Linked DNA regions of Homo sapiens. The protein of the gene in region 1 purifies or fractionates together with the protein of each later gene. This does not show direct contact. Each region holds a gene or a part of one and is shown in the gene's direction. Other genes may lie near its edges.

The links. The genes of interacting proteins can lie anywhere in the genome.
Region 2: the proteins of INPP5E (region 1) and PDE6D purify together in Homo sapiens (affinity purification with mass spectrometry; 3 studies listed by BioGRID and IntAct, with this or other methods). This does not show direct contact.

The regions. Positions count from the first base shown.
Region 1 is NC_000009.12:136,429,129-136,437,502, reverse strand, and holds part of INPP5E (phosphatidylinositol polyphosphate 5-phosphatase type IV), read left to right. Parts: intron 1-2,639; coding exon 2,640-2,763; intron 2,764-3,368; coding exon 3,369-3,466; intron 3,467-4,223; coding exon 4,224-4,348; intron 4,349-4,427; coding exon 4,428-4,547; intron 4,548-4,916; coding exon 4,917-5,024; exon of another isoform or gene 5,025-5,187; intron 5,188-5,517; coding exon 5,518-5,679; intron 5,680-6,385; coding exon 6,386-6,501; intron 6,502-7,089; coding exon 7,090-7,226; intron 7,227-7,695; coding exon 7,696-7,828; 3' UTR 7,829-8,374. UniProt on the Homo sapiens protein: Phosphatidylinositol (PtdIns) phosphatase that specifically hydrolyzes the 5-phosphate of phosphatidylinositol-3,4,5-trisphosphate (PtdIns(3,4,5)P3), phosphatidylinositol 4,5-bisphosphate (PtdIns(4,5)P2) and phosphatidylinositol 3,5-bisphosphate (PtdIns(3,5)P2).
Region 2 is NC_000002.12:231,770,571-231,778,944, reverse strand, and holds part of PDE6D (retinal rod rhodopsin-sensitive cGMP 3',5'-cyclic phosphodiesterase subunit delta), read left to right. Parts: exon of another isoform or gene 1-222; intron 223-8,374. UniProt on the Homo sapiens protein: Promotes the release of prenylated target proteins from cellular membranes. Modulates the activity of prenylated or palmitoylated Ras family members by regulating their subcellular location.

The DNA.
Region 1 (8,374 bases):
TTGTTCCTTGGCTTGTGGCCGCATGCTCCAGTCTCTGCCTCTGTCTTTATGTGGCCTCTTCCCTGTCTCTCTGTGTTCCCCTCTCTTTTTATAAGGACACCAGTCATTGAATTTACTGCCTACCCTAAATCCAGGGTGGTCTTATCTCGAGATCCTTAATTAAACACGTTTGCAAAGACCCCGTTTCCGAATAAGGTCCCATTCCAAGGTTCTGGGGCTCTGGGAGTGGACATGGCTTTGGGGATCACTGTTCAGCTCACCACAGTCCCCGAAGGTAGCCTCACTTCCCCGCGTCTGTGGTGCACCAGCAGGCAGGTGGGCTCAGGCCTGGAGTGAGGGCCCGTGCCTGGCGCCCCCACCATACTCTCCTCCTGTCATGGATGGAGCAGGTGCGATCACATCCAGGGCAAGACTGCTGCTTTTGTTAAAATAATTCACTGCAGGGCTTCTCGTAAAGAGTGAGATTTCTTAGTGCATCTAAAGCATCACATTTTAAAATTAGATCCGGTTGACGTAGATACACCTGTTAGAGAAAAGGACAGTCGTGTCTCAAATTTGGACCCTCAAGTCATTGTTTTCAAACAACCAGGAAACGAGGGTTGACGTGGATCCTTTAACCCAGTTCTGCTGCCTAACAGCTTCCCATTTCCAGACCTCCGGTCTGTTCTAGAATAGGAGTCGGCGCACTCTTTCTGTCAAGGGGGAGACACAGACAGTGGGGACCAAAGGGCGTCTGTGTGCCAGTGAGTCTATTAGGGACATACATTGGAACCTCGCTCTTTTTTCTTTCTCTGCCGTTCCACACAGTAAAACCCATTCTGAGTTTGCGGGCCGCGTGTGCACGGGCTGGGTCCGCCCTGTTTGAGAATGGCTGCTGGCTTTTGCCAGTGCCTTGGGGCTGCCAGGGCGGGTTAGGGGGCCTTTCCCCACCCGTTCCTTTTGCTCGGAGAGCTGGCCCAGGCTGTGGCAGCCAGCCTGAGCGTCCTCATGCAGAAGCTGTGCAGTGTCCTGGCCCTGGATGGGGGTCCGAGGCAGCTCTGCCCCTGCCCGTGTCTAGACACAGGAATGGCTGTGAGGGCCGCCCCTGGCCTGCTGTTACTAACCATGCTCTGGACAGAGCTGGGCAGACTGACCACGTGGCTGCTGGTGTGGACATGATGGGCGCTGCCGGCAAAGGGGCCGTGGGCCTCCAGCCTGGTGACCGAGGAGCCCCTGCTGGGCCCGGGATCACTTGACAGGGGTGCCCACAGGAACGCTCTCTGTCCCGAATGACCACTGTGTGAACACAGCTGTCCCGACCGGGATTGTCGACAGTTTTAGGGGTGAGGTAGCGAGGTTCCTCCCTGCTGACATGATTTAACGTGTCCAGTGAAGCTTGGTGAGCCGCAGCCAGGGTTGAAGAAGTTCTCGCGGGAGGTCACAGGAATCCGGCACTATGCTCTCGTGTCCCCTTGCGGAAGGGAACCATGTCAGAAGACGGCGTATCCAGAAGGAGCCGCACAAGTGTTACTTAGAGAGGGAGCGGGGAGGACGGCTGGCAAGCCTAGCCCACGGCGTTTCTGTATAGTCGGCGAGCTGAGAACGGGTTTTACATTTCCAAATGGTTGGAAAAAGTCAAAACCATTCTAATGATGTTTCATAGTACAAGAAAATTGTAAAATTCAGATTTCAGTGTCTGTAAATCAAGCGTCTCGGGCACACGGCTGCACCCCTTGTGTCCACATCCCCTGGTGGCTCTTGCACCACCGTAGCAGAGCCCACGGCGACAGACACTGGATGTCCCACGGAGCGGCAGGCGTGTGCGGTTGCCTCTTGACGGGTTACCAGCCCTCGTGGCAGAAGGTGCTGAGTGTGGGGAGGGGCAGGGACGTTGCTGTGCCACACGGTGTTTAACCATCTGTGTGCACCGCCGTATTAAAATCTGAAAGCATCAGCCTGGACAACGTGGCGAGACCCTGTTTCTACAAAAATAAAAAATAAATAAATAACTAGCCGGGCGTGGTGGCACTGCACCTGGAGTCCCAGCTACTCGGGAGGCTGAGGCAGGAGGATCACTTGAGCCCGGGAGGTAGAGGCTGCAGGGAGCTGTGTTAGTGCCACTGCACTCCAGCCTGGGCACGGAGTGAGACCCTGTCCCCACTAGAAACCAAAACAAGCAAACCCAAAAGTGCGTCAAAGCCACGGGGTGTCGAGGAGATGGACGCGTTTCCGTGTGGCTCGTGTGGTCTCTGTATCTTAGACCGTCCTGCCTGGTGCTGGGGCCAAAGGAGAAAGGAGGAGGACCAGCCCCTCCCCGAACAGCACCCTGTGCCCACTGCCTTGGCTTATAGTTTGGGAGCTCCTCTCTGTGGCTTTTCCAGGATCCCACCACCAAAAAGCCCAAACCGTCACCCTCTCATGCCTCTTCCCGGGAGGTAGGGAGGGGGTGTGAACCCGCTCTGGGTGTTTGTGCAACCAGGTCAGGCCTTGTGTTCCTGGAGAGCAGACAGCAGTGCCGCGGGGGCCAGGAGAGTCCTTGCTTGGGGCTGGGGGCAGCTCCTGACATTCCATGGGTTTTGCTATTGTCCCTGGGGACCTGGCCCAGACCCCCAGGGATGTGTCCTGTGCCTGGCCCTGAGCTTGGGGTCCTCCCGTCACAGGAGTTACCTGGAGGGCAGCCTCCTGGCCAGCGGGGCCCTGTTGGGGGCGGATGAGCTGGCCCGCTACTTCCCAGACCGGAACGTGGCACTCTTCGTGGCCACCTGGAACATGCAGGGCCAGAAGGTGAGTGGCTGTGGGTGGTGCTGGGCGGGGAAGGGTGGGGTGGTGCTGGACAAAGGCGGGTGAGGGGGACGGGGCAGCTCTGTGCCTCATCCTGGGGCCAGGAGGGCAGAGCCCCGAGGTGCACCCCACTGCTAACCGCAGTACAGGAGGGTGAGAGTGGGTAAGGACCCCCATCCCCCAGAGCTCCCACCTGCACCTCCCTGGCCACGTGGCTGCAGAAAGTAGGGGAGGGGGTTGGGGCAACGGGCCTGGCCGAGAATCACCTGCTCAAGGTGAGCGGGAGGGCGGCCAGCGGGGCACGCGTAGGGGTGGCTCAGGGACAGGGTGGGCAGCACGGGCTGGGGTCATGGTGACGGGAGGGTCATACAGGGGTGGTCGTTGGACAGACTCGTGCTTGGAGAGGGAAACAGGCCGAGGGCCAACGTGAGGCGTGTTTGGTGTGTCAGAGGCTGCCTCGGAGACCGGGCAGCTCCCTTTTTGGCCCTGGCCTCAGTTTCCCCTCATTCGGAGGAGTCGCTGGTACTCAAGGCACCGCAGTGGGATTCACCCACAGGCGCCTGCAGGTTTCGGGAGGAGCCGGCCCACCACATGCTCCCTCCTTCCAGGAGCTCCCGCCCAGCCTGGACGAGTTCCTGCTCCCAGCCGAGGCCGACTATGCCCAGGACCTGTATGTCATCGGGGTCCAGGAGGGCTGTTCTGACAGGTAGGGCGGCTGCAGGCCCTGCAGTGCCTGCCCAGGGGCTGCCGTCTCTGAAGCAGCTGGGTGCTGAGACCTGTGGTCATGGCTGGGCACGGGTCTGCAGTGCCTGCCCGGGGGCTGCCATCTGTGAAGCTGCTGGGCGCTGATACCCGGTTCGTGGCCGGGCACAGATCTGCAGTGCCTGCCCGGGGGCTGCCGTCTCTGAAGCTGCTGGGCGCTGAGACCCGGGTGGCGGCCGGGCACGGGCAGCCTCCACGCCTGGGTGGGAGGCATGGGTCAGATTTTTTTCCAGTGGCAACTCGGAGAGTTTAAAATCAATGAGATTTGATTTTGGTAACAAACTGTTGGCGTGCGAGAGTAGAAGGGCAGCCGGAGCAGGGCCGGGCCCCAAGGCCTCCCGGGCCCCCATGTCATGGCGGGAACAGCAGGTGGCTGCCGCCCACACAGGTGCTCTGGGGGAAGGAGTTGAGGTGGGCCCCACCTCCCTGGCCCATGAGTCCCTCAGGCGGGAGGAGCTCTGCTCACTGGGGTCTCGGCGGGGGTCCAGGGGAGCCACTCAAGTGGAACTGGGGCCTGTGGCCCCCGGCAGGTCCCAACTCTGGCCCACCAGGCCTTCTGGCAATTGCTTCTCCGCGCAAGACACCAAGGCCAGGTCGTGGGGTTTCCCTGGTAGCTCCTCGAGGGGCTCTGGGCAGCAGGTCTGGGGGTGGCGGAGCTGGGAGGCCATGTCCCCCAGCCGGCCGTGCTTCCTCCTCTGCAGGCGGGAGTGGGAGACTCGTCTGCAGGAGACGCTGGGCCCGCACTATGTGCTGCTGTCCTCGGCGGCCCACGGCGTGCTCTACATGTCGCTCTTCATCCGCAGGGACCTCATCTGGTTCTGCTCAGGTGGGCGCGGCTGGAGGGGTGGGCGCGGCTGGAAGGTGGCAGCGTCCCACAGGTGAGCTGAGGGCTGCCCCTCCCACAGAGGTGGAGTGCTCCACGGTGACCACACGCATCGTGTCTCAGATCAAGACCAAGGGGGCCTTGGGCATCAGCTTCACCTTTTTTGGCACTTCCTTCCTCTTCATCACGTCCCACTTCACCTGTAAGTTGCTTGGTGCCCGCACCGCAGGTGCTGTGTGAGAACAGCTTCCTCTCCTGACCGGGACCCTGTCCAAGGCAGGGGTCCTGACCGCTGGCTTCATCTTCCACCCAGGGCCGTGGGGTGGGCACCACGCTTGCTAAGATGCACGCCAAGGACCCCCGGCAGACCCCGGCACCGAGGGCGTGCCGTGCTGGGCCCGTGCTCTGTCCTCCGAGGCGGAAATGTCACTGGCTGGGCCCGGCAGCGGATGCCCGGTGGGGTTGCGTCTGCCGGGGGTGCGCAGTCAGGGCACAGTCCAGAGGTGCGGCGCTTTAGGGAGACTCGAGCATCCGGAACCCTGTGGTCCCTACCCCATTTCTGTTCCCACAGCAGGTGACGGGAAGGTGGCGGAGCGGCTGCTGGACTACACCAGGACTGTACAAGCCCTGGTCCTGCCCAGAAATGTGCCCGACACCAACCCCTATCGCTCCAGCGCAGGTGAGGGCGTCCACGCTGCGTGTGGGTGGTGCCGCCGTGGTTCGCACACGGGCGCCCGTCGTTTTTAGGGCAGTTCTGAAGAGGCAGCGTCCTGAGCTTTGGGAAGCGAGGGCCGAAACGTCCAGTGCCCCCAGCGCATGGCCCCTCGCGGTTCTTTAGCACGGTTAGTGGGGTGGGCGGATCCTGTCCACTCGGCGTGGCCCACTAGCCTGGGTCCTGGTCCTCGCCACTGCCCGCCCCGCCGCCTCCCCTGGCTGTGTGGAGAGGAGCAGGGACGTGGCCATCGCCTGCCATGGGCATCGTCTGCTCCTGAGGCTGCTCCAGGTGCCTTCTGGAACTGTCCCAGTGCGAATCCCACCCCTGAGGGCCCGGCCCCACCGGCTGGCGCCCAAGACCCACTTCCCCTGAGAGCCACTCCCAGGCCATGTTCTGGGGAAGGGGAAGGACCTGCCGTCCCTCTGCCTGTGCCCACACATGGCCCACTGTGCCGCAGCGGACGTCACCACCCGCTTCGATGAGGTGTTCTGGTTTGGAGACTTCAACTTCCGCCTGAGTGGCGGGCGCACAGTCGTGGACGCCCTCCTGTGCCAGGGCCTGGTGGTGGACGTGCCGGCGCTGCTGCAGCACGACCAGCTCATCCGGGAGATGCGGAAAGGTGAGGGCCTGGGGGGGCGGGCATGGAGGGAGATGAGGAGAGGTGAGGGCCTGGGGGGGCGGGCGTGGAGGGAGATGAGGAGAGGTGAGGGCCTGGGGGGCGGGCGTGGAGGGAGATGAGGAAAGGTGAGGGCCTGGGGGGCGGGCGTGGAGGGAGATGAGGAGAGGTGAGGGCCTGGGGGGGCGGGCGTGGAGGGAGATGAGGAGAGGTGAGGGCCTGGGGGGGCGGGCGTGGAGGGAGATGAGGAAAGGTGAGGGCCTGGGGGGGCGGGCGTGGCGGGAGATGAGGAAAGGTGAGGGCCTGGGGGGGCGGGCGTGGAGGGAGATGAGGAAAGGTGAGGGCCTGGGGGGCGGGCGTGGAGGGAGATGAGGAGAGGTGAGGGCCTGGGGGGGCGGGCGTGGAGGGAGATGAGGAGAGGTGAGGGCCTGGGGGGGCGGGCGTGGAGGGAGATGAGGAGAGGTGAGGGCCTGGGGGGCGGGCGTGGAGGGAGATGAGGAGAGGTGAGGGCCTGGGGGGCGGGCGTGGAGGGAGATGAGGAGAGGTGAGGGCCTGGGGGGGCGGGCGTGGCGGGAGATGAGGAAAGGTGAGGGCCTGCGGCGGGTGGGGGGAGGGTGGGCGTGGTGGGAGATGAGGAGAGGTGAGGGCCTGGGGTGCGGCGGCTGGCACAAGCTGGTCTGAGCCAGTCCGAGTGCCCATCCTGTGGCAGGGTCCATCTTCAAGGGCTTCCAGGAGCCGGACATCCACTTCCTCCCATCATACAAGTTTGACATCGGGAAGGACACGTACGACAGCACCTCCAAGCAGAGGACGCCCTCATACACGGTGAGGCCTGCCCACCGCTGCGGTGCAGAGTGCTTCCAGGGCAGGCATCTCCCACAGCCGGGAACCGATGCCTGGCGTCAGGGGTCTGAGCCTGGACGGCCTGGACTTGAAACTCAGCTCTGCACCTTGGCCTTGTGGCAAGTCCCCTTTGGTGGAGAACGGCGCCCTCTCCATGGGTGTTTTCAAGGCTGGGTGAGCCGGCTGGCACACAGGGCACCAGCCATGCCCTCGCCTCCGGCCTGCAGAGCCTCTGCCCTCTGCCCGTTGCACCCTCGCTCACCCTCCTGCCAGGCCCATGGCTGCATCTCTGGGCATGTCCCGATATCTGGATATCTGCTGGAAGCCTCAAGAAGCCACTGAGGCAGGGCAGGGTAGGAGCAGCCGCTGTCCACAGGGTCTCTCCAGCGGCGAGGGACAGGCCCTGGCCCAGCTGGCCACAGACGCCAGGCAACAAAATGGGCATGAGTGTCAGGGGTCCCAGAAGGCTTCCTTGTGGGGGGCGCTTGAGAACAGCAGGGAGGTGAGCGGGCCACGCCCCACGGCTCCTCACAAGTAACTGGACCTCCTGCCTCTGCAATCTTCCCAAAGGACCGCGTCTTGTACAGAAGCCGCCACAAGGGTGACATCTGTCCTGTGAGCTACTCTTCCTGCCCCGGGATCAAGACGTCCGACCACCGCCCTGTGTATGGCCTCTTCCGGGTGAAAGTGAGGCCGGGGCGAGACAAGTCAGTGTTCTCCCGCTCACCTTCCCCCTTGGGCCTGGGGGTCGTGCCGTCGTCCCATGAGCTAAGAGGGTCCCTGTCATCGTGGGGTTCCACTTGGGGCTTTGTTCTGGGACCTTCAGGGCTGTGTTCCCCGGGATCGGTTGGACTCATCCTGGAGCAGGAGAAGGCAGGAAGGGGAGAGGCTCTGGAAAGTGAAGAGAGGCCCAGCTGGGGGGCTGGGTGTGGCCAGCTGGAGGGACGAAGGCCTTAAGCACTCAGGCATCCGCCCTGTCCTTCCTGCGGCTCTGTCCCAGGAACAGGCCTCCGTGTGCTTAGAGGCAGGGCCAATCTGGGCCAGTGCCCACCTAACAGCCCCTCATCCTGGCCCTGGGTGTCCTCTTAAATGCCCCCTCCTCCGGGGCCGGCCCCCTCCTAACGCCCCCTCCTCCTGGCCCTGGGTGCCCTCCTAACGCCCCCTCCTCCTCCACAGCATTCCGTTGGCAGCTGGCAAATTTGATAGAGAACTGTACTTACTAGGAATTAAAAGACGGATTTCGAAGGAGATTCAGAGGCAGCAAGCACTACAGAGTCAGAACTCCAGCACCATCTGCTCCGTTTCTTGAAGTTTGCTGAACGAGGACTCACAGCTGCAACGTGGGGTGATTGTATTGATCAAAACCCACTGGGAAGGACAAAGAGTTTGCCGCCTTTCGGGGATCCGAGGGACTGTGGCGACCGTGCCTCTGTGCCAGCGTCCCAGGAAGGAAGCCAACCCTGAGCGAGCCTGTCCTCTGTGGCAGGTCCACACGGTGTGGGTGGGCAGGGCTTGGACCCCCGTCTCCATGGCAGGTCCATACAGCATGGGTGGCAGGGTTTGGACCCGCCCAGCAGCACCACGGACCCCAGCCACTCTCGGGGGCAGACGTCAGAATCCGTTCCTGAGCAGCTCCTGTGCCCTGGGGGCAGTCACAGAGCCCCCCAACACCCCCGTGCTCTGCACCAGCCTCTCCCTCCACACCCGAAGCAGGCGTCCATCTGTGTCCTCCTGGCAGCCCCTCAAACACACACCACCCCATGTCACACGGGTATCCAGAGCAAGGCTGGATCTGGGCTAGGTGACCCCTGGGGCCTCAGACCTCTGAGTGGGCCCCAGAGCCCAGCTGAGGAAG
Region 2 (8,374 bases), on another chromosome or scaffold:
AAGAATAGTTTATCACTGCAAAAAGAGCACCATTATGTTCTCCCACCAGCAGTGTTGATAGTACTCAGTTTTCCACGTTGACTAGGTCAGTCTTTTTTATTTGCCAGTTTGGATAACAAATGATACATTGTTTTAATTGGTATTCTTCTGGATCCCTAGATCCATGAAAAGGTAATGTAGCATAGTGGTTAAGAGCTATACTGGACTATGTCTCTATACTGCCTGCATTGGAATTCCAGCCCTGCGCTCCTAGTTGTGTGTCCCTGAGCAACTGCTTTAACCTCACCTCAATTTTCTTATCTGTAAGATGGGGAAAATAATAGTACCTATCTCATGGGGCTGTAAGAGTAAATGAGTTGATATCTAAAGCATTTAGAAAAGCACCTGATCCACAGTGAGCATTATGCTTTAGCCAGTGTTATTCTTGTTATTATTAGAGAAGTTGCACATCTCTTCTATTTGGCCATTTCTTTTTCTTCTGTAAATTGTTTGTTAATTTTGTTTTTGCCCATTTTACTATTGTTTATTTTTCTTATTTGTAGATGTTCTTTACATATTGTAATATCAATCCTTTGCCTATTATGTATTTTGCAAATATTTTCTTTCAATGTATTGTCTCCTTTTTTGTTGAACAGAATTTTTAAATTGTCATTTCAAATTTATTTTATTTCATTTGTTTGAGACGGAGTCTTGGTCTGTTGCCCAAGTTGGAATGCAGTGGCGCAATCTTGGCTCACTGCAACCTCCGCCTCCCAGGTTCAAGCAATTCTCCTGCCTCAGCCTCCTGAGTAGCTGGGATTACAGGTGCATGCCACCATGCCCAGCTAATTTTTGTATTTTTAATAGAGATGGGGTTTCACCATGTTGGCCAAGCTGTTCTCAAACACCTGACCTCATGATCTGCCTGCCTCTGCCTCCCAAAGTGCTGGGATTACAGGCATGAGCCACCGTGCCTGGCCTCAAATTTATTAATATTTGCCATCTGGCTTTTGCATTTTGTATCTTGTTTAAAAAGATCTTTCTTATCCCAAGATTAACTAAATATCCTATCTTTTCTTCTCTTTTCAATGTTTAGCTCTTTAATCCACCTGGAACGTATTTACACATTTGGTATGTGGTAGACATCTAAGTACTTCTGCTGTTTGGATAGCCAATAGTTCCAGTACTATTTACTAAGTAGTTAGTCCATCTTTTCCTCACTGTTTTGAAATGCCATCCTTGTCATATACTAAATTTTCATAAGACATAGGTTTTTTTTTGGATTATTTCTGTTTCATTGATCTATTTGTCTCTTCTTGTACCTATACACATTTGATTGAATTATTATAGCTTTATAATATGATTTAGTATAGTTTACAATAGAATGGTCTGTGACTAACATAATATGTGTGTTTAAGGTCCCTACAAATATGTGCCCCTTTTGTTCACATGGAAGCTTGCCCATATGCCCATAGTAGATAGAAACATGAGGACTTGGCTGGGCATGGTGACTCACACCTGTAATCCCAGCACTTTGGGAGGCCTAGGTGGGAGGATTGCTCAAGGCCAGGAGTTCAAGACCAACCTGGCCAACATAGCGAGACCCCCAACTCTAAAAAAAAAAAATTTAAAGATACTGCATAAAAGTGAATACTGTATGCATAAATTAGGCATGGTCTGAGTGAATTCAGTAGAAGCTTTGTATTTGCCATCAGTTGTTTCAAAAACAAAATCTTATAAGATTTTATTCTTGTATCACCTTCACCCCATCTCACCCTACCTCTTTCAGAGTATCTGTTTTTGTGAGAAGAGTTTATCACTACAAAAAGAGCACCATTATGATCTCCTGCCAACAGTGTTGATAGTACTCAGTTTTCCACGTTGACTAGGTCAATCTTTTTTATTTTTGCCAGTTTGGACAACACATTGTTTCGATTTGTATTTTCCTGGATCCCTAGATCCATACAAGGTAATATAGCATAGTGGTTAAGAGCTATACTGGACTGTGGCGCTATACTACCTCTCAAGAAATGCAAGGCTCTCATACACATTAAGAACCTTGCATTTCTTTCTTGTTTGTTAAAAGCATAACATTTCCTAATTGTAAATTAATGTTATGAATGAAATGTTACTTGGGGAACAATATGATTCTCCTGCAAATATTTTGGATTTGATTATTTTAAGCAGCTGACATAGAGATTGATGTTTGTAAATCCCACGTTTCCCATTTCGTTCCTTCAACAAAGGTCTGTTGGGTGACTATTATGTATAGGGCACTCTACACTTGAAGGATACAAAAATGAATAACTTACAGTCCCTTCTTTCCAGAAGCTTAACCAGCTTTATGTCTGTTTAGAAGGAATATCTTCAAAAGCAATGCATTTTTTAAAATTCTATTTAATTTTCCTATTACAAACGCCAGCCACCTAGAGTGACCTTTGTAAATATTATTTAATATAGCCTTCTAATGTAGCTAATGTTTAATGTGTTTTTTATAAAAATGGAATTGTAAATATCACTTTGTAACTTACTTTGTTCACTTAATAATAGATTTACCATGTTTATGATTTCCAAAGATAGTTACTTTCAGTTGCTTTCACTGACAGATTTGTCACAGTACTCTTTTTTTTTTTTTTTTTTTTTTGAGACGGAGTCTTGCTCTTGTCACCCCGGCTGGAGTGCAGTGATGTGATCTCAACTCACTGCAACCTCTACCTCCGGAGTTCAAGCGATTCTCCTGCCTCAGCCTCCCAAGTAGCTGGGATTACAGGCACCTGCCACCACGCCCGGCTAATTTTTGTATTTTTAGTAGAGAGGGGGTTTCGCCATGTTGGCCAGGCTGGTCTCGAACTCCTGACCTCAGGCCTCCCAAAGTGCTGGGATTACAGGCGTGAGCCACTGCACCTAGCATTTGTCACAGTACTCTTATACTAGCTTTCTAGTATAGTCTGTATCTACTGTTTTGCCTATTTGAATAGCTTTTTCATCAACATAAAAATATAACTTTATTAAATTAACAAGAAACTGACAGACTTCCATAAGAATGAATTATGCTTTTATGATTTCATTATCTTTAATCCATCTGAATTTTCTTTGGTATAAGATACAGAGTAGTAATGTAGCTTTTTTTTAATATTGGCTTATTGTCTCCATTTATTTATTTAATTCATTTATACGTCAGATATTATAATATCCAGAATATAAATGGCTGCCTACAAATCAATAGGATAAGCATTTAACTCAAAGTGGACAAAGGATATGAACAAGCAGTTCCTAGAAGAAAAAGCAGATGACCAATGAATAAATGAGGACATGCTCAACCTTGTTAAAATAATAGACTATCTTCCGGGTGCAGGGGCTCATGCCTGTAATCCCAGCACTTTGGGAGGCCAAGGTGGGTGGATTGCTTGAGCCTAGAAGTTTGAGACCAGCCTAGGCAACATGGCAAGACCCCGCCTCTACAAAAAAAAAAAAAAAACACACACAAAAATTAGCCAGGTGTGGTGGTGCATGCTTGTGGTCCCAGCTACTGGGAGGCTGAGGTGAGGGGATCACCTGAGCCTGGGAGGTGGAGGTCGCAGTGAGCCAAGACTGTGCCCCACTGCATTCCAACCAGGGTAACAGAGTGAGACCCTGTCAATAATAATAATAATGGACTATCTCTTCCCAATTAATTGACACAGATTTAAAAGATTGATAATATATATGTATATCCTGAAAGTGGCACTGTACGAAAATAAAATTAAAAATTAGGCCAGGCACAGTGGTTCACGCCTGTAATCCCAACACTTTGGGAGACCAAGGTGGGCAGATCACTTGAGGCCAAGAGTTTGAGACCAGCCTGCCCAACATAGCAAAACTCCCTCTCTATTAAAAATACAAAAAATTAGCCAAACTTGGTGGCACACGCCTGTAATCCCAGCTGCTCAAGAGGCAGAGGCAGGACAATTGCTTGAACCCAGGAGGCAGAGGTTGCAGTGAGCTGAGATCACACCACTGCACTCCAGCCTGGGCTACAGAGTGAGACTCTGTCTCAAAAAAAATAAAAATAAAAATTTATTAAAAAAAAAAAAGATGCCAGGCACAGTGGCTCATGCCTGTAATGCCAGCACTTTGGGAGGCCAAGGTGGGCGGATTACTTGAGGTCAGGGATTCGAGGCCAGCCTGGCCAACATGGTGAAACCCCGTCTCTACTAAAAATACAAAAATTAGCTGGGCATGGTGTGGACAGCTGTAATCCCAGCTATTATTAGGGTGCCTGAGGCAGAAGAATCACTTGAACCTGGGAGGCCAAGGTTGCAATGAGCCGAGATTGCACCACTGCACTCCAGCCTGGGTGACAGAGAGAGACTCAGTCTCAAAAAAAAAAAAAGATAATATTCAGTGTTCACAACATTGAGGGAAAGGGGCACTCTCATTTGGTTTATGTGTGTGTGTGTAGTGTCTGTAGAAAGTAATTGGTATCTATCAAATGTTTACACATTACTGCAGTAGAGTATATAGCACAGTGGTTGAGAGTATGGGCTCACTTCCAAGGTTTAGACTTACTGCCTCTGCTATTGTGACTCTCAACAGAACACTCAGACTCTGAGCCTCAGCATCTGTATCTCATATTATCAGAGGGTTGTTTTGAGAATTAAATGAAACTGCATAAAAGATGTTTGGTTCAGGGCCTGGCATATAGTAATATCTGCTGCCATTCATTTTATTAATAATTACTAATAATAATGACAGGCCAGGTATAGTGGTTCATGCCTGTAATCCCAGCTCTTTGGGAGGCCGAGGTGGGTGGATCACCTGAGTTTGGGCATTCAAGACCAGCCTGGCCAACATGGTGAAATCCCGTCTCTACTAAAAATACAAAATTAGTCAGGCGTAGTGGTGTGCACCTGTAATCCCAGCTACTCGGGAGGCTGAGGCAGGAGAATTGCTTGAACCCAGGAGGTGGAGGTTGCAGTGAGCCGAGATCACGCCAGTGCACTCCAGCCTGGGTAACAGAGTGAGACTCCATCTCAATAATAATAATAATAATAATGACAATAGTGTTAATATGATTGTAAAGCTACTTATTTCTCTGAGATATAACTAATGCCTTCATTCTAGTTATATTTTCTTACTGAAAAACTATCGTATTTCCATTTTGCCTCTGAATAAATGATTCAATAAGCATTGATATATACCTCATGTTTATCTTGTCTAGAAAATGAATCTCATTCTAATTTATGGCAGGTTAGCAAAAAGAGTTTGGGCTCAGAAGGTTTCTGAAAGCATCTTTCACTTGTTTTCTTACATTTCTTCTCCCATAGTTTGGTCCTGGAATCCCTGTATCTTCTTTCTCATAGTACCTTAATCCTTGACTTTGCTTCCAATCAAAAAACAGTTGGCTTTACATCTTCTATTTACTCACTTAGAATAAAGAATAAGAATAGTAGACATATTAAGAAAAGTCGACTGTAGAACTTCTCTTGAAAGTCAGTATTCCCTGGTACAGTTGCCTTGGCCAAATGTTAAAAATGAATTTGAGGTTTATTATTTCCCATAATATAGGTTTTGTCTGACAACCCAAAGTCTTGGAAAGCAACCAGACATACCACTCATAAAGCCCAGTTTCATGTAGATTGTGATTGGTAGCTTGTTTCCTCATGCATGGACTCTTGAGAGTTTGTATTGTTATCCTGAATGGATTAAATGAATATAATGTCCTATTGATTATCTTAGGATTCTTTTTTTCTTTTCTGCGACAGGGTCTCATTGTCATCCAGGCTGGTGCTATCATAGCTTACTGCAGCCTTGACCTCCCAGGCTCAGATGATCCTCTGCCTCACCCTCCTGAGTGCCTGGGTGCACAGGTGTGCACCACTATACCCAGCTAATTTTCGTATTTTTTCTTTGTAGAGAAACGGTTTCACTATGTTGCCCAGGCTGGTCTTGAACTTCTGGGCTCAAGTGATTTGCCCACCTTGGCTTCCCAAAGTGCTAGGATTACAGACGTGAGCCACCACGCCCGGCCTTACTTAGGATTCTTAAACAGGCATTCCTGCTTTTGTTTTTTGGAAGGAATTTAGTGTATAATTAGATATTTATAGTCTTCTACTGACTTTCTAAGTTTCTTGCCAGGGTTGTGTATATGGTTTATAATGAAACATTACAGTAACTTCTGGAGAAATGGGACAGAACACGGTAAAACTGTCATGGAGAATTCCAGTTGTATCACCACTACATTTGATAAAGGACTAGCAATGGTTCTGAGGCTTGGAAGCTCTAGGTTCTTACTAGGGTTGACCTCAGTTTTGCCTCCCAGGCCTCACTTGTCAGCATTCTGCATCCACAAATCCTCGTGTTATGAGAGGATTTGACTTATAGACCTATCCCTCTCTATTCCTGAGCTAAAGCCTAGCATCATAGGAAGGAATTTTAAGGCCATCTTCTCCAGCAGCCTGACTATTCTAATAATTGCTTGAATGCGTAAAACTCAAATTGTCAAAGTTCTGAGAGCAGCATTCTTTTTTGCTTTTGACCTGCTTATAATTTTGGAGCTGGGAAGAAAAGCAAATATATTTCTTACAGTCCAATATCCACAAAGATTTCAATGGATTGGACTAAAGCTTACTGTTTATGGCAAAGAAGGCGATGGTCTCACCGTAGGACACATGAAAGCTTGTTTAGTCTACTGCAAAGGGAGGCAGGGGAAAGTGGAGCTGGTATAAAGGTGGGCCACTTGAAACATGGCATACATTCAATAATGGGGGAACTGAAGGGAGTTTAACCTAAAGATGAAAAGAGTTGGACAAGAGATATGAGTATTCTCTTCTAAAGTTAAAAAAAAAAAACAACTGTTCTAAAGAGGAAGAATTAAATGTTGCTGTGTAGCTCTCAGAGGAAGTACAAGATTTGCGGGGTAGAAATTACAGGTGACAGAGTTTAGGCCAGTTTCTAACAATTAGTAGAATTACCTGAAAAAAGACATTTTCCAGAAAGTGTTTTAAGCAGCAGATAGATGCCTGTCTGTCAAGAGTGTTGCAGAGGGAAATTTTGTATGTATCAAATGTGTATTACAGTAGATGATCTACAGAAATACTCAAATCCTTTTCCAGCACTACAATTCTTTGATTTGGTGACAGCCTTTCTTACTTAACAAGTACTTTTTTTGGCAAATGTTTATATTGAGATATGTTCTACACCTAAAATCGGCAAAAAGTTTTTTTGTGACCCAATTGTTTCCTTTTTGTTTCTGACACAACTCTGAGACACTCAGTATTGAAGTGTTTGGTTTAGTGCATTGTGGATACAACTGATTCAGAGTCAAGGAGAGCAATTATTGCCTCTGAATTTAGATAACATTTAGAGAATGAAACATAAATAGCTGTAATATAAATTAGCACTGTAAATATAGCCACAAGAAGAAACAGCATGGTCTAGTAATATCTCATAATTCTATACTGCTTTTCGGTTTTTAAAGAACTTTGATATATTACTGCATTATCACAACAACCCTATTCATTGTTATCCTCACTTTATAGACTAAGGAATTGAGGATCGACGAGGCAGTCACTTAGACGAAGGCAGAACCTTAATTTAAGCCTTGTTTTGTCTTTTTAAAAGTCCATGTTTTCTACAGTATACCATGATGCCTCTCTGGAGAATTTATTCTTTTGTTGTTGTATTATTAATTTTGAGTTTTAAATTTTTCTCAGCTTGGCTGAGCAAGGTGGCTCACGCCTGTAATCCCAGCACTTTGGGAGGCCTAAGTGGGCAGATCACTTGAGGTCAGGAGTTCGAGACCAGCCTGGCCAACACGCCAAACCCCACAGAAGCTATTTGGGAGGCTGAGGCACAAGAATCGCTTGAACCCGGGAGGCAGAGGTTGCTCAAAAAAAAAAAAAAATTTCTCAGCTCACTGCAGCCTTAACCTCCCAGGCTCAAGTGATCCTCCCACCTCAGCCTCTCAGATAACTGGGACTACAGGTGCACACCATCATGCTTGGCTAATTTTTGTGGGTTTTTTTTTTTTTGAAATGAAGTCTCACTCTTGTCACCCAGGCTGGAGTGCAATGGCGCGATCTCAACTCACTGCAACCTCTGCCTCCCAGGTTCAAGCAATTCTCCTGCCTCAGTCTCCCGAGCAGCTGGGATTACAGGCGCCTGCCACCACACCCAGCTAATTTTTGTATTTTTAGTAGAGACAGGGTTTCACCACGTTGGCCAGACCCGTCTCAAACTCCTGACCTCAGGTGATCCATTCACCTCAGCTTCCCAAAGTGCTGGGATTACAGGTGTGAGCCACCATACCCGGCCAATTTTTGTTATTTTTTTAGAGACCAGATTTTGCCATGTTGCCCAGGCTGGTCTTGAACTCTTGGGCTCAAGTGATCTGACTGCCTTGGCCTCCCCAAGT